Homo sapiens: one gene and its partners. The protein of the gene in region 3 purifies or fractionates together with the protein of the main gene of each other region. This does not show direct contact. Each region holds a gene or a part of one and is shown on either strand. Other genes may lie near its edges.

What was found.
Region 1: the proteins of CD40 (region 3) and SAAL1 purify together in Homo sapiens (co-immunoprecipitation; 2 studies listed by BioGRID and IntAct, with this or other methods). This does not show direct contact.
Region 2: the proteins of CD40 (region 3) and BIRC2 purify together in Homo sapiens (affinity purification with western blotting; 4 studies listed by BioGRID and IntAct, with this or other methods). This does not show direct contact.
Region 4: the proteins of CD40 (region 3) and KIF14 purify together in Homo sapiens (co-immunoprecipitation; 2 studies listed by BioGRID and IntAct, with this or other methods). This does not show direct contact.

What each region holds. Positions count from the first base shown.
Region 1 is NC_000011.10:18,096,068-18,103,092, forward strand, and holds part of SAAL1 (protein SAAL1), read right to left. Parts: intron 788-7,025; coding exon 704-787; intron 1-703. UniProt on the Homo sapiens protein: Plays a role in promoting the proliferation of synovial fibroblasts in response to pro-inflammatory stimuli.
Region 2 is NC_000011.10:102,350,193-102,357,217, reverse strand, and holds part of BIRC2 (baculoviral IAP repeat-containing protein 2), read right to left. Parts: coding exon 6,469-7,025; intron 6,375-6,468; coding exon 6,275-6,374; intron 1-6,274. UniProt on the Homo sapiens protein: Multi-functional protein which regulates not only caspases and apoptosis, but also modulates inflammatory signaling and immunity, mitogenic kinase signaling, and cell proliferation, as well as cell invasion and metastasis.
Region 3 is NC_000020.11:46,113,810-46,121,316, reverse strand, and holds the start of CD40 (tumor necrosis factor receptor superfamily member 5 isoform 1 precursor), read right to left. Parts: upstream 3,004-7,507; 5' UTR 2,974-3,003; coding exon 2,923-2,973; intron 1-2,922.
Region 4 is NC_000001.11:200,610,749-200,617,773, reverse strand, and holds part of KIF14 (kinesin-like protein KIF14), read left to right. Parts: coding exon 1-162; intron 163-2,164; coding exon 2,165-2,419; intron 2,420-3,368; coding exon 3,369-3,456; intron 3,457-7,025. UniProt on the Homo sapiens protein: Microtubule motor protein that binds to microtubules with high affinity through each tubulin heterodimer and has an ATPase activity. Plays a role in many processes like cell division, cytokinesis and also in cell proliferation and apoptosis.

The DNA of each region.
Region 1 (7,025 bases), on a different chromosome or scaffold from region 3:
AAGCAATGGTGGATTTTGTCAGTAAAAAAGAGAAATCAACTGAAAAATGGGAGGCCCAGGCTCTGTTCCTTGTTCTGATACATACTAGCAGCATAACAGTGGTTATGCCTAACTCGTCTCCACAGCTGGTAAATGAAAGTGCTAATTTCCCTGGTCCGGCCTGAATCTAAAATTCTATGATTTTCATAATTTTAAATTATTAAATTATTAATAATTTAATATTTTAAATTATTACAGGCATTTAGCTCACGCTTATAATCCCAGCACTTTGGGAGGCCAAGGTGGGAGGATCACTTGAGGCCAGGAGTTCAAGACCAGCCTGGGCAACATAAGGAGACCTTTGTCTCCACAAAATAAAAATAAAAATTAGCTGGGTGTGGTGGCTTACACCTATACTCCCAGTTACTTGGGAGGCTGAGGTGGGAGGGTCCCTTGAGCCCAGGAGGTCAAGACTGCAGTGAGCCGTGATCACGCCACTGCACTCCAAGCCCTGGAGACATAGTGAGACCCTGTCTCAAAAATAAAATAAAATAAATTTAAATAGCAAATTACCTAGGACCTGGCAATGTTCAATTAACATCTACAGGCTGATTTGTTGATTTATGGTCAGTAAGAAAATCAAAGTGAGAAAAATAAAAGACTATCCAGCACTATCTGTTCTTATTGCTTCAAAGAAGAAGGCTTTAGAAATGTACATACTTACTCTTAATCGAGGACACTTGGACTTGGCCAGTACTCCCATGAATATATCAGGAGCATTAAATTCTTGGAGAAATAAAGCCACGTCCTGAAAAGAAAAATGATTATTAACTTGGATGTTGAATATTCCTCCCTAAACCCTAAAGCTCAGGCAACCATAAAATTCTATATTAAAATTAGAATTTTACGCCAGGCGCAGTGGCTGACACCTGTAATCCTAGCACATTGGGAGGCCAAGGCTGGCAGATTGCCTGAGCTCAGGAGTTCAAGACCAGCTGGGCAACACGGTGAAACCCTGTCTCTACTAAAAATACAAAAAAATTAGCCGGGCATGGCGGCATGCACCTGTAGTCCCAGCTACTCAGGAGGCTGAGGCAGGCGAATCGCTAGAACCCGGGAGGCAGAGGTTGCAGTGAGCTGAGATCACGCCACTGCACTCCAGCCTGGGTGACAGAGCGAGACTCTGTCTCCAAAAAAAATAAAAAAATAAAATAAAATTAGAATTTTAGACACAAGAAAAAAAAAACACAGGCTTAGGAACTGTGTCAACAGACAAAAGTGATGTTAGAGAGTCTTTATGGTAACTAGTCCCAGACAATGGAACAATTTCATAAACAAATCTAAACTACCTACAATACTCCAGAGGATTATCCCACTCTTTTCTGCCCGAATCTATTTACCTTAATAATTTTTCTGCCCACTAGGAATTCTCATTAAACACATTCAAACACATTTGGTGATTACCTATCAGGTATTAAACTAGAAGCGGGGGACAAGGGAAAAAAGCAACACGCTGGGCGCAGTGGTTCACACCTGTAATCCTAACACTTTGGGAGGCTGGTTAGAAGGCCGAGGTGGGTGGATTACTTGAGCCCAGCTTGGGCAAACATAGTGAAAACCCATATCCACAAAAAATACGAAAATTAGCCAGGTGTGGTGGCACATGCCTGCAGTCCCAGCTACTTGGGAGGTTGAGGTGGGAGGATCACTTGAGCCTGGGGAGCTCAAGGTTGCAGTGAGCCATGACTTTGCCACTGTACTCCAGCCTGGGCAACACAGCGAGAAAAAAAGGAAAAAAAAAAAAAAGGTAAAACTTGGCTGGGCGAGGTGGCTCACGCCTGTAATCCTAACACTTTGGGAGGCCAGGACAGGCGGATCACTTGAGCCCAGGAGTTCGAGACCAGCCTAGGCAAACATAGTGAAACGCCATCTCTACAAACAATACAAAAATTAGCTGGGCATGGTGGTGTACCATCTGTAGTCCCACCTACTCAGGAGGCTGAGGTGGAAGGATTGCTTGAACCCGTGAGGCAGAGGGTGCAGTGAGCTGAGATCTCGCCACTGCACTCTAGCCTGGGCGACAGAGTGAGACTTTGTCTCAAACAAAAACAAAATTCCTTCTTGTCCTCCAAGAGCTTAAAACACGGTAGGGGAAAGAAGTCAAGAACTGCTATTGGGTCCTGTCCAAAACCAGAATTTGTGTTTTCAAAATCATCAATAGAATAAAAATTCTGATCACAATGTAACTGTGGCAGCCTCATAACTTCTTCCTACAGAGTCTGCCACAGTGCCTAAAGGGGCGTAACACACAGGTGACATGTGAGTGGACATGTGGCCCCAAATGAGCCAAATCTCACCTAGGAATGTAAGACACAAAAGCTAAGTCAGTTTGCTTGGGGACCTGCAATGTAAAATATATAAATAAAATTAAGTCTCTGGCTGTCCACTGCTTCAGATTTTCACTAAATGTGAGGTGTGTATTTGAGAAGCCTTAACTTAAAATATAAGCTGCATGGCTTATGTGAAAATTAAGGGCCCTGGAACATCTCAAAGAGACAGGCAATTATTCTCCACAGCAAGTGAAACCAGTAACCTGCCAGACAACTGACTGAGAGAGACACACTCTACTTACTAAAGGACCATGGTCAGAGAAAATAGTATTTTCAAAGATACACTCTAAACTGAAAGTCATAATGGCAGATTCTCTTCACTGTAAGTGATCAAGCTGTCCTGTGGGCAATTCTTTGCCACATGCAGAAATTTTTAAATTTAATGGTAATTCCTGGAGTAGCACAAGGGTGGCCTAACAATATCAACACCAACAGTAATAAAATTAACATTCATTGAACAAGTATTAAATGCCAGGCACAGTGAAGTGGCTTGCATGCTATCTCATTTAATTCTCAAAACAACTCTATCAACTAGTTATCATTGTTAGCCCCATTACACTCATAAGCAAACTGAAGTTTAAAAAGTGTAGCAACCTGCCCAAGATTATACAGTCTCAGCAGAGCAAAGCTAGGATTTGAACCCATGAGTCTGATTTGAGCCTATGGTCTTGTTTTTTAAAAGAGATGGGGGTCTTGCTATCCTGTCCATACTGGAGCAGTGGCTATTCACAGATTCACAGGCATTATCATAGCTCACTGCAGCCTCCAACTACTGGGCTCAAGTGATCCTCCTGCCTCAGCCTCCCAAATAGCTGGGAATACAGGCAAGTACCCAGCGAGACTATGTTCTTAACCAGCACAACATGCTACCTCTCAGGTATTCATCTATTCATTCATTACTCCCCAAATATTTTCTGAAAAACCTAATAGGCACTGTTTTAGGTTCTGGGGATACATCAGTGAACAAGCTAAATAAGGGCTCAGTCCCATGGAATTTTCATTCTAAAGAAATGAACAAACAATAAATATAAAACAACTAAACTACACAATTTCTAAATGCTACAAAGAAAATAAGATATGTGCTAGAAACCAAGATAAAGCGGGCTACTTTAGACATGACATTGAAAAGAAGGCATTTCAGAAGGGGTGACATTATGCTTTGATGAGAAGGAATTTAAATCCATCAGAGGACACATGTAACAGAGTGAAGCAATTCTGTGGGAACACCAAAACAAGACAGGTTAATTCTGACTGGAGTGTCTGGGGTGGCATCACAGAGGAGGTGACATTGAAGCCGGGCCATAAACAATGAGAAGGATTTTGCCAGCTGGAAGCCATTCTAAGCAGAGCGGCATGAATAGTGCCCATGGACACGTGAAAGTGCAGGAAGTATCTGGAGGTCTCTGGTCCTCGCACACTGAATTCATGGTTACAGAACGATAGGCGACAAGACTGAGATATAAACTCACCAGACTTTGCGCCAGGGACCTCAATTGTCAGTGGAGAGCTCAGTTCTGAGTGGTGCCTCAAGGGCACCTCTTGTAAGGGAGCAAAAGGAGGCCAAAGAACATGACTTTGCCCTGCACCAATAACCTCCTTCAAACAGTAGCGCTGTTTTCTCAATTTTAAAACTGAGACTTTCACCCTAAGAGTTCATTTAAAACACAGGTTTTATTTCTTTTTAAAAAAATTTGTTTAACCATAATTTATCAATAATTGTAGAATAGAAAGTAGATCTGAACAATACTCTCAACCAACCTGATCTGACATTGAGAATAAGATATTCCACCCAGCAACAGCAGAACACACATGCTTTTTAAGTCAACATGGTAAATATTTCAGGTTTACTTAAAACCATATTCTGGGCTATAAAACAAATCTCAACACATTTAAAAGGATTCAGTGTTCACCAACCACAGCAAGAGAAAGATAACTGAAACATTCCCAAATATTTGAAACTTACCTATAAACCAAAGAAAAAGTAAAGAATATTAGAAAGTATTCTGAACTTCTGCGGGCATGGTGGCTCACGCCTGTAATCCCAGCACTTTGGGAGGCCGGGGCAGGGGGATCACTTGAGGCCAGGAGTTCAAGACCAGCCTGGCCAACATGGCAAAACCCCATCTCTACAAAAAATACAGAGCGAGACTCTGTCTCAAAAAAAATTGTAAACACAGCATATCAGAAATTGTGGAATACTGGTAAAGCATAAATATTTAGGGAAAATTCTATAGTGCTTGATGTCTATCTTTAAAAAGAAAAGATTTCAAACTATAAAGTATGTGGACAACTGATTTTTGACAAAGACACAAAAGCAATTAGTGGAGAAAGGATCGTCTTTTCAACAAATGAACTTGAACAATTAAATATCCATAAGCAAAAAAATAAACTTCATCCATCCTTGCACCATATACTATACAAAAATCAACTCAAAATGGATCACAGACTTATATGTAAAACCTAAAATTATAAAACTTTTAGAAGAAAATGTAAGAAAACAACACAATTAAAAAGCAGGCAGAAGATTCAAACAGGTACTTCACCAAAAAAGATACACAGAGTACAAATAAACACATGAAAAGATGCTCATCATTAGGAATTAAGGAAGTCCAAATTATAATCACAATGAGCTATCATTACATACTTATTAGCATGGCTAAAATTAAGAAGACTGACCATACTAAGTGTTGGTGAGGTTGAGGAGAAATTGGACCTGGAATTATGTCTCATACACTGCTTGTGGTTATGTAAAATGGTAAAAAACTGCTTAGGAAAACAAATTGAAAGTTTCTTAAAAAGTTAAGCATACACCTACCGTATGATCCAGCCATGCCACTTGATATATGGTCTGGCTCTGTGTCCCCTCCTAAATCTGACCTTGAATTGCAATCCCCATAATCCCCACGTATCAAGGGCAAGACTAGGTGGAGGTAAGTGAATCACGGGGGTGGTTTCCCCCATGCTGTTCTCATGATAATGAGTGAGTCTCATGAGATCTGATAGTTTTATAAGCGTCTGGCATTTCCCCTGCTCGCACTTCTCCTTCCTGCCACCGTGTGAATAAGGTGCCTGCTTCCCCTTCCCCTTCTGCCATGATTGTAAGTCTCCTGAGGCCTCCCCAGCCATACTGAACTGAGAGTCAATTAAACCTCTTTCCTTCATAAATTACCCAGTCTCAGGTATTTCCTTATAGCAGTATGAGAATGGACTAACACACCACTCTAGGTATTCACCCAAGGAAAAACAAAGTATATGTCCATACACACTTGTATACAAAAGTTCACAACAGCTTTATCTGTAATAAGCCTTAAACAACTCCAACATTCATCAACAGGTAAAAAATAAATTGTGGTATATACATATAATGGAATACCATTCAGCAATAAAAAAAAAAAAAAAAGCCACTGATATACACAACATGGATGAATCTCAAAATAATTATGCTGTATAAAAGAGCCAGACCAAAAAAAGCATATGAGCACATTCATATAAAACTCTAGAATACATACTAATCTGTAGTGACAGAAAGCAGATCAGTGGTTGCCTGGAGGGGATGGAGGAATGGAGAGGCAAGAGGAAGAGACTACCAAGGACCATAAAGAAACTTTCAGGGGTGATGGGTATGCGCTGTATCCTGATTACAGTGACAGCTTAATCTGCGTACACATCCGTCAAAGTTTATTGGCTGGGTGCGGTGACTCACTCCTATAATCCCAGCACTTTGGGAGGCCGAGGAGGATGGATCATTTGAGGTCAGCAGTTCAAGACCAGCCTCGCCAACAGGGTAAAACCCTGTCTCCACTAAAAATATAAAAATTCGCAGGGATTGGTGGCTCACACCTGTACTCCCAGCTACTCTGGACGCTATGGCAGGAGAATCACTTGAGCCCTCGAGGCGGAGATTGCAGTGAGCTGAGATCGCACCACTGTACTCCAGCCTAGGTGATAGAGACTCCATCTCAAAAAAAAAAAAAAAATCAATGTCAATGATACTTCAAAACAATATGCAGTTTTTTGGTGTTAATTATACCTCAATAAAGTTTTAAATAAAATGACTGAAACAATGAATAGCCATTGACAATTTTTAAGAAAATGAGTACAATTAAGTCTGTATTTCCGGAAAAAAAGGTAACACGGGTGGCAATGTAGAGGACAGAAGGGAGGTGAAAGAGACTAAAACAAGGATTTTAATCAGGAAGCTATTGCTAAAGTCCAGGTAATAAAACAAGAAAGATTACATAGGTCATTTAATGTCTTTTGGCCTCTATTTTCTTAACTGTAAAATAAGGGTACTACCTACATCACAGGGTTATTGTGAAGATCAAATAGAATACTATATATGAAAATGCTTTTGAGCTATAGAATAAAATACAGATATTAAAACACTATGATTAATACTGCAATTACAGACATATAATTATTTATTGTCCTTTCCTTCTAATATTATCATGGTATATCAGTGGTCTTCTAACTCCTAACCTGCTGTCAAATATATGGCCAGAGCTCTCTTTAGGTAGGTAAGTATCAGAACTTTCCCGGCCTACATGTGTATAGGAATACATTCATAAGAGCTACGTATTTAGTCCGAATCTGTTGAGAGCTCAAATCCTCCAGCCTCAAAGACAGAAGTTTAGCATTTATAGCCCCTGGGATCTC
Region 2 (7,025 bases), on a different chromosome or scaffold from region 3:
CCAAGCATTACTCTGATACCAAAGCCAGACCAGGACAACACAAGAAAAGAAAATTATATGCCAATAGCCCTGATGAGCACAGATGCAAAAATCCTCAACAAATACTAGCAAACCGAATTCAGCAGCCTACTAGAAGAATCATATATCAAGTGAGATTTATCCCTGAGATGCAAGGATGGTATGACATATGCAAATCAATAAATGTGATACCACACATTGACAAAATGAAGGATAAAAATCATATAACCAGCCAGGTGCAGTGGCTCACGCCTGTAATCCCAGCAGTTTGGGAGGCCAAGATGGGTGGATCACCTGAGGTCAGGAGTTTGAGACCAGCCTGGTGAAACCCCATCTCTACTAAAAATACAAAAATTAGCTGGGTGTGGTGGCATGCACCTGTGGTCCCACCTACTCGGGAGGCTGAGGCAGGAGAATCACTTGAACCCAGGAGGCAGAGGTTGCAGTGAACTGAGATTGCATCACTGCACTCCAGCCTGGGTGACAGAGCAACACTCCATCTCAAAAAAAAAAAAAAAATTAATAATAATAATAATAATATAAACATCTCAACAGACACAGAAAAAGCATTTGACAAAATTCAACACCCTTTCAGGATAAAAATTCTCACCAATTTAGCTATAGAAGGAATATACCTCAACATAAGGACCATAAATGGCAAGTGCACAGTTAACATCATACTCGATAATGAAAACCTGAAAGCTGGCCGGGTGCAGTGGCTCACGCCTCTAATCCCAGCAATTTGGGAGGCTGAGGCAGGTGGATCACGAGGTCAGGAGTTGGAGACCAGCCTGGCCAACATGGTGAAACGCCATCTCTACTAAGAAATTACAAAAATGAGCTGGGTGCAGTGGCACGCACCTGTAATCCCAGCTACTCGGGAGGCTGGGGCAGGAGAATCACTTGAACCCAGGAGGTGGAGGTTGCAGTGAGCTCAGATTGCGCCACTGCATTCTAGCCTGGGCAACAGAGCAAAATTCCATCTCAAAAAAAAAAAAAAAAAAGCTTTCAGCTTTTCCACTAACATGAGGAACGAGACAAGGGTGCTTACTCTTGCCACGTCTATTCAATATAATACTGGAAGGGTTAGCCAGAGCAATTAAGCAAGAAAAAGAAAAAGGCATCCAAATCAGACTGGAAGAAGTCAAACTCTCTGTTTGCAGATGACATAATCTTATATATATAGAAAACCCTAAAGATGCCACCAAAAACAGTTAAAACTAATAAACCATCCAGAAGTTGTAGGATACAAAACCAACTTACAAAAGTCAGTACTAACAATGAACTATCTGAAAGAGAACTTAAGAAAGTAATCCCATGTACAACAGCACCAAAACAATAAAATACTTAGGAATAAATTTAACCAAGGAGGTAAAAGAGAAACACAATGAAAAACATATGACACTGATAAAGGAAACTGAAAATGACAGAAATAAATTTTTAAACAATCTCGTGTTCTTAAATTATAAGAATATTGTTAAAATGTTCATACTACCCATAACATTCTACAGATTCAATATAATCCCTACCAAAATTCCAATGACTTTTTTATCACAGAAATAGAAAAACCAATCATAAAATTTGTACGGAACTTAAGGCCCAGAATAGCCTAAGCAATCTTGAGAAAAAACAAACAAAAAAAACAACTGGAGGCATCATACTTCCTAATTTCAAGCTATATTACAAAGCTACAGTAATCAAAACAATATGATACTAGCATAAAAACAAAGACATACACCAACAGAACAGAGAGCCCAGAAATAAAGCCACATATACAATCAATTAATCTTTGACAAGGGCACAAAGAACACACAATGTTGAAATGATAAGTCTCTTTAACAAACGGTGTTGGGAAAACTGGATATCCAACACCGTTTTTATGTAAAACAATAAAACCAGACCTCTATCTTATACCACCTACAAAAATTAACTAGAAATGGATTAAAGACTAAACATAAATCCAGAAACCATAAAATTCCTTAAAGAAAACGTAGGCTAAAAAGCTCCTTGGCACTGGTCTTGGCAATAATGTTTTGGGTATGACACCAAAAGCACAGGCAACCAAAACAAAAATAAACTGCGACTACAACAAGCTAAAAAGCTTCTGCTCAGCAAAGGAAACAATCGACAAAATAAAAAGGCAACCTACAGAATGGGAGAAAATATTTGCAAATTATACATTTGATAAGGAGTTAATATCTAAAATATTTAAGGAACTTATACAACTCAATAGCAAAAAAAAAAAAAAAAAAAAACCCAAATAATTCAGGTTAGAAAACGGGCAAAGGACCTGAACAGAAATTTTCCCAAAGATATACAAATGGCCAACAGGTACATGAAAAGGTGTTCAATGTCACTGATCATCAGGGAAATGCAAATTAAAACCAAAATGAAATATCACCTCCCACCTGTAATGATGCCTTATTATCATCGGAGACAAGAAATAACAAAAGTTGGCAAAGATGTGAAGAAAAGGGAACCCTTGACCATTGTTGGTAATTTACTACTGTCATTATGGAAAACAGTATAGAGGTTGCTCAAAAAACTAAAAATAGAATTAGCATATGATCTAGCAATCCCACTTCTGTGTACATATCTGAAGGAAATGAAATCAGTATCTCAGAGATATCTCTACTCCCATGTTCAAGCAGCTATATGGAAACAACTTAAGTGTCTACTAAGGGATGAATGGGGGATGAGCCTGGCTGGGCGTGGTGGTTCACGCCTATAATCCCATCCACTCCGGGTGGATCACTTGAGATCAGGAGTCTGAGACCAGCCTGGCCAACATGGTGAAACCCCGTCTCTACAAAAACAGAGTAATTAGCCGGACATGATGGCAGGTGCCTATAATGTCAGCTACTCAAGAGGCTGAGGCAGGAGAATCGCTTGAAGCCAGGAGGTGGAGATTGCAGTGAGCCTAGATGGTGCCACTGCACTCCAACCTGGACAACAGAGTGAGACTCCATCTCAAAATAAATAAAATAAAATAAAATCCTACCATCTGCAACATGAATGAACCTGGAAGGCATTATGCCAAGTGAAATATGCCAGAGAAAGACAAATACAACTGGCCCTTGAACAACACAGGTTTGAACTGCACATGTCCATTTACACCCAGATTTTTCTCAACCAAATGCAGATCACATTTGCAGATGTGAAACCCACATATTTGGAGGGCTGAATTTTGGATGCACAGGTTCTGCAGAGTCAACTTCTGGACTTCAGTATGTGCGAATTTTGGTATACATGGGGGTCCTAGAACCAGTCCTCCGAGCATACCAAGGGACAACTATACTGTATGGTAACCAAACTCACAGAAACAGAGAGTAGAATGCTGGTTGCCAGGGATAAGGGGGTAGGTGAAATGGGAAGATGTTGGTTAAAGAACACAAACTTTCTGAGGATCTAATGTACAGCACATGGTGACTATAGCTAATAATACTGGACCTTATACCTGAAATTTGCGAAAGAGCATCTTTTAAGAGTTCTCACCAAAAAAAAAAAAAAAAAAAAAAAAGAAAGTTACTACATAAGGTGATGGATTTACTGAGATTAAAGATTATTCCCAGTTGAAATGTGGGCTGGGCTCAGTGGCTCATGCCTGTAAGCCCAGCACTTTGGGAGGCCAAGGCAGGCAGATCACTTGAGGTCAGAAGTTTGAGACTAGACTGGCCAACATAGCGAAACTGCGTCTCTACTAAAAATACAAAAACTACTGAGTGTGGTGGCGTGTGCCTATAATTCCAGCTACTCGGGGGGCTGAGGCTTGAACCCAGGAGGTGGAGGTTGCAGTGAACTGCCATCTTGCCACTGCACTCCAGCAGTGATAGGTGATGGAATGAGACACTGTCTCAAAAAAATAAAAAAAAGGAAAAAAGAAATGTGTTGTTTTCAGAGAAGCATTTACAAAACACGCCCCTACATCTTCTCCCTTAATCATTTAAAACAAAACACAAGTTACAAAAATAAAGATTTTGATTTTGTTTTATAAGGTACAAAATGTAGCAGTTCCAACACTGGAATTTGGAAGCTGTTTTTGTCTTTGATACCACAACATGGATTAAATTTCAAATTAATGTATATAATCCCATAGAGCCCAACATAATTAAGTCATTTAAAAGTCTGATAAAACATGCTTTTTAATTTTAAACATAATTAATAATTTAGTCATTTTTCAGTGTAAAAAAGTCAAAATTTATCTTGATATATTATTAATATTAATAACTTTAAAATACAACTTTTAACAATGTACTGATCCATAATAAAGTATTTGTTACTTCAAGTTTCTTTTTCATCATATATCATACAAAATGACGAAAACTTTTTAAATTTCCTGAAGGGGTTCAAGAGATTCTTCATTATTGTGAAAGACACTCACAGGTAAAAACATAATCTGTGATGTATGATTCCACTTATATATGATGCCTAGAGTAGTCAAATTCATAGAGACAGAAATAGAATGGTGCGGCAGGGGGCAGTGGCTCATGCCTGTAATCCCAGCACTTTCGGAGGCAAAGGTGAGCAGATCACTTGAGCTCAGGAGTTCAAGACCAGCCTGGCCAACATGGTGAAACCCTGTCTCTACTAAAAACCCTGTCTCTACTAAAAATACAAAAAAATTAACCAGGCATGGTGGCAGGCACCTATAATCCCAGCTACTCAGGAGGCTGAGGCAGGAGAATCGCTTGAACCTGGGAGGTGGAGGTTGCAGTGAGCCAAGATCGTGTCACTGCACTCCAGCCTGGATGACAGAGTGAGACTCCACCTCAAAAAAACAAACAAGGGCTGGACGCGGTGGCTCACGCCTGTAATCCCAGCACTTTGGGAGGCTGAGGTGGGTGGATCACGAGGTCAGGAGATCGAGACCATCCTGTCTAACATGGTGAAATCCCATCTCTACTAAAAAGTACAAAAAATTAGCCGGGCGTGGCAGCGGGCGCCTGTAGTCCCAGCTACTCGGGAGGCTGAGGCAGGAGAATGGCGTGAACCCGGGAGGTGGAGCTTACAGTGAGCCGAGATCGCGCCACTGCTCTCCAGCCTGGGTGACAGAGTGAGACTCCGTCTCAAAAAAAACAAAACAAAAAAAAAAAAAAAGAGAAAGACAATGGTGGTTGCCAGGATGTTGGGGAATGGGATAATGGTGAATTAGTACTTGATGGGTAGACAGTTTCAGTTTGGGAAGATGCAAAGGTTCTGGAGATGGATAGCGGTATAATCGCAGAACGGTTAAGAATGTACTTAATGACACACAACTATACACTTAAAAAATGGTTAAGATGGTAAATGTTATGCCTATTTTATCACTATTTTAAAAAATTATCTAGGCCAACCCCTCCTCATTTTACAAACAACGTCCAAGTTCACATAGCTACTCAATTACAAAGACAATTTAATTCTATTTCTACTAATAACACTGCCCCTAAATTATTTCTAGGCTATAATAAAAAAAGACACTGCTAGAGACAAAGTGGCTAAAAGGAGGTAAATGACAAAAAAAAATTGTACAGAAAAAATAATTTACAATTACAATTAAAATGGGCAGTCAGATATGCTTTTTTCTTTTTTTTTTTTTTTTTTTTTTTGAGACAGAGTCTTGCTCTGTTACCCAGGCTGGAGTTCAGTGGCACAATCCTGGCTCACTGCAGCCTCCGCCTCCTGAGCTCAAGCGATTCTCCTGTCTCAGCCTCCCGAGAAGCTGGGACTACGGCCACGCGCCACCACGCCCAGCTAGTTTTTGTATTTTTAGTACATACGGGGTTTCACCATGTTGGTCAGGCTGGTCTCAAACTCCTGACCTCAGGTGATCCACCTATCTCGGCCTCCCAAAGTGCTGGGATTACAGGTGTGAGCCACCACGCCCATCTAAGATATGCTCTTAATACATGGACTTTTACATTTGACTTATTCCTGCATCCATTCTATGTCCCTTCTTGTTTTCCTGTTCTTACCTTTTTCTAACGTCTTTTTAATCTATTTTATATGTCTTTGTAATCCTTAAGTACTCTTTAAAAGAAATGGGAAATAAATAAAATGTACGGTCATACTTGTAACTGACTTACAAAAGTACACAGAAGACTGCAGAATATTTTTCAACAAAATAATTAAAGTTAAAATGTGATCTTTTAGAAGGATAATTCCCCAATGGCATAAAAGAGGCTTTGTTATAATTTAAAGGTAAACAAAATCATGTAGGCATGCCTACTTCTTTTAAGCACAGAGTTTTTTGTACAAATACCTTTTTCAAAACAATTACCTTGGAAACCACTTGGCATGTTCTACCCATGGATCATCTCCAGATTCCCAACACCTCAAGCCACCATCACAACAAAAGCATTTGACATCATCATTGCGACCTTCAGGAAAAAAAAGACTAAATATTGAAAACACGTATGTTCTAATATGTAAATTAAAATAAAATGATAAAATGTATAGTTATTTGCTTCTTACCCACATAATAAAAACCAGCACTTGCAAGCTGCTCAGGCTGAACTGGAACACTAGATGGCCAGTACATAAATGTTCTCATTCGAGCTGCATGTGTCTGCATGCTCAGATTTGAAATGCTAAACCTCAGAGTTTCTAGAGAATTTTCCAAAAATGGACAGTTGGGAAAATGCCTCCGGTGTTCTGACATAGCATCATCCTTTGGTTCCCAGTTACTGAGCTTCCCACCACAGGCAAAGCAGGCTACCCTATCTCCAGGTCCTATATAATAAAAACCAGCTCTTGCCAATTCTGATGGTGACAAAAAAGTTAATGGCCACATATGGTAGGTAAGAAATCTGGCTTCTTCAGTACTCATTGCATAACTGTAGGGGTTAGTCCTCGATGAAGAGATGTCTTCAACTGCTCTAGAATTAAGAGGGTTTGGAGAAAGGCTGGAGTAAGAACCACTGAACAAGCTACTATGTTCCAAGGTGGGAGATAATGAATGTGCAAAACTGTTTCTCATTGGAGACGTATTCTTAGAGGTGGATCCCAGACTAGCTGAAACCAGATTCTGA
Region 3 (7,507 bases):
CTCATAAAATGCTAGAATGTAAAGCTGGAAGGGTAAACTCACACTTTCATTTTACAGATAGTTGAGACTGAGCACCAAAGAGGAGGGTCACTTGCCCAGAGTCTCACAGTGACAGAGTCCAAATGAGAACTCAGGTCTCAATGCTCCTCTCTCCATCAACTTGTGTTTCATCTTCACCATTTTACTACATCCAGGTACCACCCATGCTATTAATTACTTATTGTTAATTTCAATACTTTTATTTTATTTTTTGAGACAGAGTCTCGCTCCATCGCCCAGGCTGGAGTGCAGTGGCATCATCTCAGCCCACTGCAACCTCTATCTCCTGGGTTCAAGCAATTCTCCAGCCTCAGCCTCCTGAGTAGCTGGGATTACAGGTGTGTACCACTATGCCCGGCTAATTTATGTATTTTTAGTAGAGACAGGGTTTCACCATGTTGGCCAGGCTGATCTAAAACTCCTGACCTCAAGTGATCTGACTGCCTTGGCCTCCCAAAGTGCTGGGATTACAGGCACAAGCCACCGTGCCTGGCCGGTACATTTACTTTAAATGTAAACCTCACATCATTGCCAAGAGACAAGAACCAGTATCACTTCTCATAAATAAAAGGTAACCCTAAAAATAAATTCTGGGGAAACAAAACAAGGTTATTAAAACCCAGCTGGTTGTTTGCTTGTTGAAGGCCCTCCCAGGCCTGCTCTTGATTTTTGTTTTAAAAGAAGGATTAGCAAGCCTTTGAGAGGCATTAACTCTATTCTAGCTCCAGAGACTTCCTCTTTGAAAAAATGAGAAGGATTTTTAAAAGAACTGTAAAGTAAGTGTATGTTTAATTCTATGTCCATGTGCTCCTTAAAACTGTCCCACAGTTTGGGAACAGCCAGTGAAAAGAACACAAGTTTGAGAGTCAGACAGCTTTAGACTCCAGTCCTGACTTTGTAACACTTACTAGTTATTTTGCTTCTCTTAGCCTCAGTTTCTCTATCTCTAAAATGGGAGTAATAATGCCTGCCCTGCAGGTTGGATTACGAAGATAAGAAAGAATACATGTATATGGCCTAGCACAGTGTCAGGAACATAGTAGGTGCTCATTAAATGGCAATTTTAATCATCATTCATTTGTTTCTGCTTGCATGATATATGGCAAGCAGCCCGGCTACCTGGCTGGCTGTCCAGAATCCTACCTAACTGGTGGCTCTCATTCAACCTGGGTATCTCAGCAAATTACTTACAGAAATGTGTCTTACCCAAAATGGGAAAGGAAGTAGAAAAGGCTACTGCCCCCCACCAGCTCATTGCAAGACACCATCCTGTGAACGTGGAGCTCCCACACTCCCAAAGATAGGAAAGTCCTTGATACCATCTTCAAACACATGAGAAATAAAACGCTCCCCTAAAAGTCTGTCAATCTCCAGTTCTCACTCCCCATAGTTCTGGTCCTTCTGCCACAAAACAGCTCAGGACCAGAGCTTGGAGACTCTCACTATCTGAGAGGCAGGCTCGGGAATCATGCAGATGTAGATTCACAACCAGGTTCTTCCATTAGCTAGCTATGAGACCTTTGGCAAGACAATCCCCCTTTCTGAGCCTCAATTTGCCCATCTGTATAATGGGGGAGTTGTGAGAAATCAGACAAAGAAAACAGGCAGTGTTTGGCTCAGAGCCTGACACACAAGAAGCCCTCAATAGATAGCTTCTGACATTGTTGTCACAGCCCAGCCTCTACCTGGAGCCAAAGTTGGGAGTTATGAGGGCAAACTCTGCTCTTGAGAAGCCTGGATCACACCCTTCACCCCACCTCCTCTGGCTCTTTCTCCACTCCTACCACAAGGGCCCCCCTTTACCTCTTTCCAGCTCCGCCCTCCCCCTGCCTCCCTGTTCCCTAAGAGCCATTGCTTCAGGTGAAAGTGAAAGCTGTGGGACCAAAGCAGCCTCCCCACTCCCTCTCTTCCCTTGCTGCTTCCCTTGCTTTCCTTGATACCATGGGTCATTCCTGCCCAGGCTTCAGGCAGGAATCTACAGCCCTCTAAAGTAGGGGGAGGCCAGAGGGGCTGGGATGAAGGAGCCAGGTACTTGGGGGATTCCCAGCCTCCAGAATGAGGAACTACAAAAATACATTTAAACAAAAAGTGAGTCAAGTGTAGGCTTCTGAAAATCCCGGAGATATGCTTGGTTGGCTCTGAGCCCCTCTGGTGCCTGGAGAAACCCCTGGTTTCTCCAGCCCTCTGATCACCAGCCCTGTCAGAGCCAACCAGAACTCTGGTCTCCTAACCCTTTATTGTGTCCCATAAACTGTTCATCTCCCCAGGGGTCTCCTATGTCATCTTAAATTCAGGAGAAAAAGGCAAAGCCCTGGGGATTCCTCCTAGGTTGGAACACCCAAGATACGGTTCGGGGTGGAAGGCGATGTTAAAAGCTCCTTGCCTTCTCACAAAAGTACCTGGGCCTCTGCACCCATCTCTTGTTCCCACAAGATGCCCTGGAAGAAGGCAGCCCCAGCTGGCAAGGAGATGATAACTACTTACAGAGGCTGGCATCTGTCCACAATAAGAAGGGGACAGGAAACGGGCCAGACCCGCCCCTTCCCTTGGTCCGCCTCACTTCCCGCCCTCTGAACCCCCTACCAGTCTCTGTGTGGCCAGCCTCTGAGGCTCCCTAAACCCGTCCAGGCCGTCTAGGCACGCTTGGGCAGCCAGTGCCTTCCCTGAGCGGCCCCTGTAGGCCGCTCCCGGGACCCCAGCCCGGGAGAAGAGAGAGGCAGCCCACCCCATTCAGCCAGGAGCGGGGGCACCTTGCCCAGCTCCCACCCACCCTCCTGCCCCCACAAAAATCAGCCAGGAAGGCCTCTTCCCCGAAGTCTTCCTTCCCTTTCCTTCTCATTCCCCACTCCCAACTCCCGTCTGGTCGGGGCAAAAACAACTCACAGCGGTCAGCAAGCAGCCCCAGAGGACGCACTGCAGAGGCAGACGAACCATAGCGAGGTGAGACCAGGCGGCAGGACCACTGGGCGCCCGAGCGAGGCCTCTGCTGACTCCCCTGCCCCAGCCTTGGCCCCGCCCAGGAAAGGGGCGGGGTCTTCAAAGACCAATCGCGGTCCACCTATCGGGGGGGCGGAGCCCCCAGCAATTCACCGCGCAGGAGTTTCCCCAGAACATTCCCACAAGTCTAATTCCCCCGGGAGTTTAGGGACGCATCTTGCTGTGTACGGGAGGAGGCATGGTCCCAGAGACAGCTCTTCTTCTTTGCCCCCAGGTCCCACAAAGGCCAAGCCGAGGCGGGCTAGGAGCTAGCCTGCTTCCTGCGACCGGAGAGAGATCCCATGGGTGCTGGGGCCTGCCACAGGGACCCTCACGGTTTTCCCCTCCCTGCCCCGCTCTCCGCTGCCTCTAGGTATCCTGGCAGAACCGAAAGAGGCTCCACTGCGGAGAGGCCTGAGGAAGTTCCCCCCACACCACCACGCAGAAAACGGGAAGGCCACAGCTGGGGTATGGGGAGGCGTTTCAAGGAAGAGTTTCCCAACTCAGAATTTCGCTCTCTTTCAAAGGAAATTCCCTCGTGTGGGCGCGTCGTCTCAACTTCCCATCCATTCATCCATGCATCCATGCGTCCTCACCTCATTCCATTCCATCCCACCTCCCACCCAGCACCTGGAGACAGGCATTTATTAAGAGTGGGGCCGGGCGCGGTGGCTCACGCCTGTAATCCAGCACTTTAGGAGGCCGAGGCGGGCAGATCACTTGAGGTCAGGAGTTCGAGACCAACCTGGCCAACATAGTGAAACTCCGTCTCTACTAAAAATACAAAAATTAACCGGATGTAGTGGCGTTCGCCTGTAATCCCAGCTACTCGGGAGGCTGAGGCAGGAGAATCGCTTGAACCGCAGAGGCAGAGATTGCAATGAGCCGAGATCGTGCCACTGCACTCCAGCCTCGAAGGCAGAGCAAGACTCAGTCTCAAAAAAAAAAAAAATAAATAATAAATAAAAATAAAAATAAAGGTGGGGGCCAGGCGCGGTGGCTTACGCCTGTAATCTAACACTTTGGAAGGCCAAAAAGGGAGATTGCTTGAGGCCAGGAGTTCAAGACCAGCCTGGCAACATGGCAAGACCCCCATCTCTACAAAATAAAGAAATTTTTAAGTTAGCCAGGCATGGTGGCAAACACCTGTAGTCCCAGCTACTCAGGAGGCTGAGGCAGGAGGATCGCTTGAGCTCAAGAAGTCAAGGTTGCAGTGAGCCATGATTGCAATGATTACATCACTGCACTTCAGCCTGGGCGACAGTGCAAAACTCCATCTCAAAAAAAAAAAAAGAGTGGGCCAGCCTTTTGTGGCATCATAAAACACTTTAAGTATGTTAGGAAACTCGGGACCCTCTCATTTTGCAGAAACACACACACTTGTGCCTACATTTCCTGGGTTCATGAACTCTGAAGACGTGCTTTTGTTTTTTTGTTTTTTGTTTCGTTTTGTTTTTTGGGTGTTTGTTTGGTTTTTGGTTTTTGGGTTTTTTTTGACAGAGTCTCATTCTGTTGCCCAGGCTGGAGTGCAGTGGCATGATCTCGGCTCACTGCAACCTCTGCCTCCTGGGTTCAAGCAATTCTCCTGCCTCAGCCTCCCGAGTAGCTGGGATTACAGGCTGGCGCCACCACGCCCAGCTAATTTTTGTATTTTTAGTAGAGACGGGGTTTCTCCACGTTGGCCAGGCTGGTCTCAAACTCCTGACCTCAGGTGATCCGCCTGCCTTGGCCTCCCAAAGTGCTGAGATTACAGGCATGAGCCACCGCACCTGGCCCTCAAGATGTTCTTGAACCAGTGTTAACACTCTGCTTTGCAGCATGGAACACCTGGGTTCTGGTGCAGCCTCTGCCTCTGAAGGACTGTGTTCCCTTAGGCCTAAATTTTTCTCCAAGGAAAACTTAGGAGCTTGAACTAGACAACGGTTGAGGTGATGACCCTCCAAGCTCTCAATTTCTGGAAGAGGACAAGAGGCCAGACCTCACAGATCAGGGAGGATGGAAGAGGAGGACACTTCTAACCCCATTCTCATGGCTTCTGCTGTTAAGGGCACATTTGCAAGTCTTGTGGATTCTGCCTCTAGGATCCATCCCTTATTTTCTGTCACCTCTGCCACTGCCCTAATTCAGAGGGTGCCATCTTTCATCTGGACTGTCCCAACAGCCTCTCTCATTCCACAGGATTTATTGAGCACCTACTATGTGCCAGGCAACTCTTTACACTGCTGCGATTCTCTTGATAAACTCCAGATCTGATCGACTGGGACACTTTCCTGCATAAAAGCCTCTTTGGGTTTCCCTGCACCCTCAGGATGATCCAAATTTCTTATCCTGGCAAAGCACACCCTTCCTCACTCAGCCCCAACCTCTCTTTCTATGCTTACTTCCTGCCACGTCCTCCCATGCACACTGGCTTCAGCCTCTCCCCACTTCCCAGGCACACAATCTTTTTTCCTTACGGTTTATCTCATTGCTCTTGATGTTTCCTTCCTTTCCTTCTCCTTTCTTAAACAGTTTAAATGTTGCCTCCTCTTACACCTTCCCCAACTCCCTGAGGCAGAGGTAGGTACTCTATCCCACCCTGCCTCCTCCCCTGTGTTGCCACAGCATTTAGCATGCCAGCTCATAACTCCTTCTGCCTGGTCCCATTTGACTGTGAGCTCCCTGAGGGCAGGACTGGATCTATCCCAGTCCTAGGTACATAATAGGACACCAATATATGGGTGCTGAATGAATGAATAAATGAATGAGTGGGTTCAGCAACTTCTCATCCTAAGTACAGCCTCCAATCATGACAAAGAGTTGGTGGCAGGGGGTGCGAAGCTGGTAATCTCAACACAGACCTCAAGCTGCAGTGGCCTCTTGAGAATGGTGGTCAGATACCAAAAGGCCAGAAACTCTTGAAATCAGGGTCCAGGGAACTTCATTAAAGCCACCCAAACATGCCCAGGATGGAGAGAAGATTAAAATATCTTTTCCCTTTTTAACATACTTTGAAAAAAACAAGCACGGTTTTAAATCCTTTGAGAGAGGGGTGTTACTATAATGATTTCAGCCATTACTTATTCTTTATTTGCTTGATTCCAAAATTGGGCCTTTCACAAAACTGCCTGGGGAAGCAAGTACACAGAATTAAAACATTAATTATATTATATAAAACATATCATAGCAGCAATTAAAGCAGCTTAAATTAATGTGTGAAGGAATAAATGTTAGCCTTCGGGTTGCCCCATGGGGCGAAGACCAGATAAGATAAAGGGAAGATATTTTAGTATATACATATCCTGAGGAGGCATGTGCTGGTGGGCACAGGCCCAGAGAAGGCCTAGAATCTTGTTGAGCTGAGAAGAGTGTGCTGGAGGAGGAAAGCGAGAAGATGATTTAAGGGAAAGTGGCAATATTCGGAGGCCAATCAAAAAGGGAACAATGAAGGGTTCTGCAATAGGAATGGGGCAAAGGACATTCAAAAGAGTAGGGAGCCAGGATTTTGGAAACTCAGAGATGAAATGGCCTTTGTAGGGAGGTGGGTTCACAGTGCCAGGTGAATGGGTGAGGAGCATGCCTAGAGGTCCAGTGTCCACAGCGCTGCCAGAATCTGGCATCCAGAGTGTTCTGTCTAATATGCAAATCCAATTGTGTTGCTCCAAGGTTTAAAGTGGCTCTCCAGGGCCCTCACCCCTTAAGCTTGCAGAGCTGCAAGGCCATGGGCCTCCTGGTGTACATCTCTAAGCATCCTTCCTGCCTTCCCCTTCATGCTCCAGCCCCACTCCCCAGATGTCCCGTGCTGTCACCTCTGCCTGGAGAGCTCCCTTCCCACTGCCACTCTCCTTTCACCTGGCCAACTCTTTCTCACCCTTCAAGGTCCATCTCAGGCAACCCTCCTCTGGAAATCTCTCTCTAACAACCAACCTATCCCCCTGTGCTCTCTCAGAACCTGGGGCAGCTTTACCCAAGCAAGACTCTAGCCCGACCACACTGTATTTCAATTTTTCTGTTTACTTGTGGAGCCAGTGTATTGAGGCGATTCAACTCTGTGGGGTATAATGATGAAGATTTTCTCCCCTAATCTCTGCCTTCAGCCATGCTGTGTTGAATCTCCCTTTTCCATCCCTTAATGACATTTTGGGCAGATTGCATTACTTTTGGATCACTTTCTGTTGTTAAACCTCCATCCTTTAGACCTTTATTCTCAAACTCAATTTAAATCTCATTTTATCTTCTCTCTTACTCATTCAAGAGTTAACTTGAGCCAGGACCCTGCCTGCTAGGAGGAAAAGGACTTGGTGGAGGTGGGGCGGATGGTCTGATTGGGAGACATACCCTACCACCCCCACCCCAACCCCGTGTCCATATATGGTTTCTCATGGGCAAATGAGTAAGTTCCTTAGCGGCTTCTCCACTGCACAATTCTCTCACAGGGTCATCCAGCCCAGGCTTGACCTCGCCTACCCCACCCCACCACCTAGGGCCTACCAGTGTCCTGACCCTCTTGCCC
Region 4 (7,025 bases), on a different chromosome or scaffold from region 3:
AAAAAGTTCCTTTCTTGCAAATAAACAGGAAAGATCCGCAGAAAATACAATTCTTCCCGAAGAAGAAACTGTAGTTCAGAACACCTCTGCAGGAAAAGACCCCTTAAAAGTAGAGAATAGTCAAGTGACAGTGGCAGTACGCGTAAGACCTTTCACCAAGAGGTATGTGATGCCTTTTAAAATCTAAAGCCAAGCAGTTACATGTAAGGTACCTTTAATTCCTCTCTGCCTTTGGAAGGTCAGTGTATTCGTGCATCTTCAAACTTGTTGGCAATACTTTTATATAGAAAGAACTTTTAGGTCTAGTTGTAGTGTGTGTTGATAATTTTTGATCACTGACTATAAAATTAAAAAATTGAATCACCATATTTTGTATATTGAAGTTTCTCTAGATATATTGCTTTTAAAAAGTCTGAATAAGTCACTTAGGTCTCTAATGAAATCTGCTTTCAGATCTGCAATATATGCTGGAATGTTATACCTATCCCTTAAAAAGAGCCATAACAGGCCAGGTGTGGTGGGTCACGCCTGTAATCCCATTGCTTTGGGAGGTCAAGGCAGGCAGATCACTTGAGGCCAGGGGTTTGAGACCAGCCTGGCCAATATGGTGATACCCTGTCTCTACTAAAAATACAAAAATTAGCTGGGCATGGTGTTGCACACCTGTAATCCCAGCTACTCGGGAGGCTGAGGCAGGAGAATCACTTGAACCCGGGAGGCAGAGGCTGCATTGAGCTGACATCAGGCCACTGCACTCCAGCCTGGGCGACAGAACGAGACTGTCTCAAAAAAAAGAAGAGCCATAACAAATTACTGGTTCCCTAAAGAGGTCCTTTCAAAACCCTTTCCAGAGTGGTGATTATCATCATCATTGTCTCCGATTACTATATAGTAGTTATAAATGCAGTGATACATTAGATTTGATTTTGATGGCAAAAAATCTCTCTCTAAAAGTGGTTGTGGGTGGGGAAGACACAGATTAAAGATAAGGTTGGAAAAGATGGACATGACAAAATGTGAATGTGACAAAATGTAATTGTTTTAAAATATTTTAATGTAGTTGTTTAAAATATTTTAAGGGACAGTGAAAAACTTCACAGAGTTAGTAGTGTTTAACTTGAAGCTGTGTATCTAAGCAAGTTAGAAGAGGATTTGGTGACCACTGCATCAGGGCAGGAACCTCCAGTTTGAACCTAAGGGGTCAGTAGTTAAAGGCAAGTTATACAGTACTGTAGAATCTTTTTCGTGCAAATGGGTTAGTATTAAGAGGGAGAACTGAGGGTGAGTTGGTTTGAGAGAATTGGAATGTCTAATAGAGCCTCAAGAACCATGATAGGAAGAGAAACAATAGAAAGAGCTGGTAGGGACAAAATGCAAGATGGATGACTATACTGAACTTAGTAAGGGACCAAGTGCCTGATTCCAAACTCATCAGACAAGCCTTGAAAGCAGGGCCAGGGTAGAGTACTTGTCAAATTGATGAGGCAGGTGTTTTTTCCAGAATAAATTCTGATTTAAAGCAGTCTCAGAGTCAGGGATGGAGCGGGGAGGGAGTGTATATCTGGAGCCAGACAAAGAGTGATGATGTTTTTCTGTAGATCTAAAGTAAATGAAAGATTTCCACCTAAGTCTCAAAGGGAAAAAGGATATACAGAAAGATTCATGATTTTAAGGGAGAGAATCTAGAGGAAGGAGGAGAGATCTTTAGTAGCCAAGAGAGACTTATGATTGAAACTTACAGTCAACTGAGTTTGTTAAAATTAGATATTTGTATTTTATGCCAGCTTTATTTAGATTGGTACCCCCCCAAATTTGTATAATAAAGATGTAGATTTGGATGAAGAGTATAGGTAGATTATAGTAGGTGGGATGGGAAAAGGTATAGTTCAAGAGAAAAAAAAAAGAGGAAAAAATCTTGTAAAAGTAGGATAGGTTTTCTGGAGGAATCTGGGATTTTCCCTTTGGTGGCACTGGAGCCTCAGGAAATATATTTTGGAAACCCACTAGAATTATGTTTGCTTATCTGCATTTTCCACATAAAACTACAGAATTATCTTGCCTTGGAAGATTGTTTAAATAGTTTTGAGGTATTTATTATGTTCTGTGAGAATAATACCCTTGATCATTTTAGTTACTTGATTTTTTTCTTTGTGCTTCTTTCAAGAGAGAAGATTGAAAAAGCATCCCAGGTAGTCTTCATGAGTGGGAAAGAAATAACTGTGGAACACCCTGACACGAAACAAGTTTATAATTTTATTTATGATGTTTCATTCTGGTCTTTTGATGAATGTCATCCTCACTACGCTAGCCAGACAACTGTCTATGAGAAGCTAGCAGCACCACTCCTAGAAAGAGCCTTCGAAGGCTTCAATACCTGTCTTTTTGCTTATGGTCAGACTGGCTCTGGAAAATCATATACGTAAGTTGTATTGGAAATGCAATTATCCAGAAGTGTTTAAATATACTTTTGTGAGAAGTGGCATAGGGGTGATAGAAAGAATATAGTTTTGAAATCACACAGATCTTGGCCCAAATCTCATCCATTTTATATACCAGTTCTGCAAACTTGGGCAATTTACTTAGCCTCTGGGCTTCAGTTTATACATTTACCTTGATACAATTCATCTTGTAATTATCATTGGCCCCATTTTACTGTACTTTATATATTTTACATAAACTAAGGCCTAGAGAGGTTATCTTTTAAGTATTTTGGTGAGAATTAAAAGTAAGGCATCTAAGCTAGATGTGATGGCACACACCTGTAGTCTCAGCTACTTGGGAAGCTGAGGTAGGAGGATTGCTTAAGTGCAGGAGTTCGAGTCCAGCCTGGGCAACTTAGTCCCCATCTCTTAAGAAAAAAGGGTGGAGGGGCATCTGATAAATGGTAGCTATGATAATAATACCTGTCCTAGAAAGAAATACTCAGCATTTTAACAGTAGCTAACATTTGAGTTCTTTTTTTTTTTTTTTTTTTTTTTTTTTTGTAGCAAGGTTTGTTGTGAAGAGCGAAAGAACAGAGCTTCCACAGTCCACAGCGTGGAGGGGTCCCAAGCGGGTTGCCCAACATTTGAGTTCTTACTATATTCCAGACACTGTGCTAAAGACTTTGCTTATATTCTTTCACAACAATTCTCTGAATTAGATAGTTGTATTATTCCTGTTTTACAGTAGAGGAAATTGAAGTTTAGTGAGGTTAAATATCTTGGAGTCAAGATTTGGACTCAGGCAGATTTGACTCCAGAGTCCAGATTCTTAATTATGAGATTCAGTGAACTTGCTTCCTACTCCCTTCCCAGCCTATTTCCCCAAAAAGAATTTTAAAGAAAGAATTAGTTTTATTTCCCCCTTATTCATAATGTATTTTTCAGGATGATGGGATTTAGTGAAGAACCAGGAATAATTCCAAGATTTTGTGAAGATCTTTTTTCTCAAGTAGCCAGAAAACAAACCCAAGAGGTATGTTCTTATAATACCTGCAAGCTTCTTTTCAGAGTAGAAAATAGTCAAATCAAGTTCAAATCAGTCATGGCCACTAAGGAAATACTTAATGGAAGATCAGTTCTAATTTGTAGATCACTCTTCTTTGGAACAGTGGTATGGAGAGGGAGGGTGGAAATTCTAAATTCAGAATCAGTTTCACCTAGTGGGCAGTGATAGTGAAGTCATCTCTTCTGTCTTTTCTCCCTTGTTTTTGCTTTACTTTTGTGTATACGTAGAGGCTCACAAACATGGTAGCTATGTGCTGTTATACGTGTGTTTGTAGTCAGATAGGTGTACAGTTTAACTAAGGACAGCAGGCATAACCTTTTGGACAACGTGAATCAGAAAGAGTAGTGAAATTGGGATTTGAACCCAGAGTTGACTTCAAAAGCCATGCTTTTTCCACTCTACTACACCTGAATAGGCTGTACTGGCTTCCTATTTCACTTATTCATTTACACATTCAGCTACCTTTTACTGAGCATTCTGCTGTTGCCAGGCAGCTTGTTAGATCAGTTTTTTTTTTTCTCAAATTTTCTTGGTCATAAGAATCACCGGGGATTCTTGGCAGGGACATATATGTGCATGTGTATGTGTATGTACACACTTGCTAAAAATCTCTTCTGGGGGTTCTGAGTCAGTTGGTCTGGTGTAGAGCTTGGGATTTTATAATTTTCATGCTTTTCCTCCAGTATTTTTTATGATAAAGGAAATTGGGAAAATTGTGCTAGATTAGGGGTGTGGAGTTAAAAGACCCAGTCCCTGTATTCAAAGGAGTGTAGTGGGAGAAATAAGTTAACAGCCAAGTACAATCAATTAAATGCTAAACAAACTAAAGTAGATGCTCTAATAGAACATGTAAGTGAGGACATATAAAGTTGGAGGGAGACATTCTCTCAGAGGAAGGAGCAGCTGAGCTTATTTTTGAAGGATACATAGCATTATTAGCTTGGTAAAGAAGGGGAGAAGGATATTCCAGGGAGAGGGAGCAGCATGTACCAAGATTTGAAAGCAAAAAAGTAGGGAGCCTTTGGGAATCTATAAATTGTTCACTGTGTTTTGAGCATGGAATTTGAGGGTGGAAAGTGATAAGAGAAGAAACTAGAGGCTGGGTGCGGTGGCTCATGCCTGTAATCCCAGTACTTTGGGAGGCCGAAGCGGGCAGATCACCTGAGGTCAGGAGTTCGAGACCAGCCTGGCCAACATGGTGAAATCCTGTCTCTACTAAAAATACAAAAATTAGCCAGGTGTGGTGGCACATGCCTGTAATCCCATCTACTTGGGAGGCTGAGGCAGGAGAATCGCTTGAACCAGGGAGATGGAGGTTGCAGTGAGCCGAGATCGCGCCACTGCACTCCAGCCTGGGTGACAGAGCATGACTCCATCTCAAAAAAAAAAAAAAAAAAAAAAAAGAGAATAAACTAGAAAGGCCTGCAGAACTTGGCTCATGAAGGACTGTCTTAGTAAGGATAACTGGTAAGACTTGCTGATTATTGGAAATGGAGGATGAGGGAGAGAGAAATCAATGTTTCTGGTTGGACAACCAGATTAGATATCGATGTCATTTTTTGAGATCACAAGAGGAAAAGTAGATTTGAGTAATTGATGAGTTCTGTCTCTTCTGTGGATATACTGCCTCTCCTCTGTCTTCTTCTACCCTCAACCTCTCATTCCCAGTAATTAAATTGAAAATAGGAGGAGTATGGGGATCAATAGAAATATGGTGGTATTGAGACTATGAGATGAAATATGATTCAAGTCCAAGTTTAGTGGGCATAAGAGAAAGCTGTGGGCTTGTGGGGCAGAGTTCTCTATTGGCTCTCCAGATTTTAGAGGGATAGTAATTTGAAGGTAAAGCCAGGAAGACATAGATAAGTGTAGTGGAGGCAAAGGTCTTTGGAATGATTTCAAAGGACTAGGAGGCTCAGATTTTGCGTGGAATGACTATGTCATTGAATAACATAGTGTAATGAATGCTTAAGAGCCTGGTTGGCCAGGCATGGTGGCTCACGCCTGTAATCCCAGCACTTTGGGAGGCCAAGGCAGGCGGATCACCTGAGGTCAGGAGTTTGAGACCAGCCTGGCCAACATGGTGAATCCCTGTCTCTACTAAGAATACAAAAATTAGCCAGGTGTGGTGGTGGGCGCCTGTAATCCTAGCTATTCGGGAGGCTGAGGTAGGAGAATCGCTTGAACCCTGGAGGCGGACATTGCACTGAGCTGAGATCATGCCACTGTACTCCAGCCTGGGCGACAGAGCAAGACTCTGTCTCAAAAAAAAGAAAAAAAAAAAGAGCATGGACTTTGGAGATACATTATTTGAATTTGAATCTCAGCTTCATCACTGCAGTAGAAATGTGATCTTGAACAATTTACTTAATGTCTTTCTGTGTTTCAGAACAGAAAATAGAGATTATATTGACAATGTCTTTCTCATAGGTTTGTTGTGAGCATTAAATGAGTTGATCTATACAAAAGGTTTTGAAGAGTGCCTGGCACATAGTGAGCCCAACTAAATGTGGTTATATCAACTTTGGAATTAGCCAGGATGGTAGAGAATAATAGTATGTGGATGGGGGTAATAGAAGGTGGTATAGCGAGCATGATGGCAGGAGCCTCAGAGGAGAAGAAAAAAGTAGGACCTCTCCAGTGTGGCCCCAGCTACCTTTTCCAATTTGTTTCCCACACTACATTTTCATTTCTAAGTCCTCCTGGAGCCTCTATAACATAAAATACTATTTTACATAAAATAAGCATTATTACGTGTTTATTGAATTCTGACAGCCCCCATCCCTGTTCATAGCATTTGTCAATGACCTTATAATTACTTGGTGTTCCCTTATACCTGGTCTCTTTGGAAGTGTTTTGTTTCTCTCTCATGACACCAGCTATATTCTGCCTTGTATTACTCATGTACTGTATTGCATCTCCAATTAGCTTCTGAGTTTTTTCAGGATAAAAACTATGTCCAGTTCATCTCATATTTTCCCACAGCTCCTAGAAGAGTGCTTTGTACCTAGTAGGGCACAATAAATATTTGGTGAATTGAACTTAAATCTCTTTGACACTCCCTTGAAGCTTCCAATTCTGTTAGATGCTTGCTGACTCACTTCTGGGTCAGTGGATGAAATTTATTTCTCTAATAAGGAAACCATGCCCTAACTGTCAGAAGAGCTGTTTGGAAGCAAAGTTTCCCGTTTTTGGCCTCTACACTGTATCTTTCAGAGTCAAAAGGAGGAGAAGCTCAGCCCACTTAATCTAATGATTGCTTTCTCTCCCAATCAGGAAGAATTGTTGATTTAAGGTTCCATCTTACCAGATCAAATGTCAACCTACAGGGTGTCTTTCCTATTCTGAGCACATGTGATGCACAGATGCTGCTGTCCTTGCCCGAGAATGCCCTACCCCCTCTTTCTGGTTCAATCTACTCTGTCTCTCATGCCTCACATTCTATTTACTCCTTCCCTTTTCTCTGGCCATCCTAAATTTTCCCTTTTCTGATTAGTCATATTTATAGTCATCTCATTTTGATTCTTAATTAATTT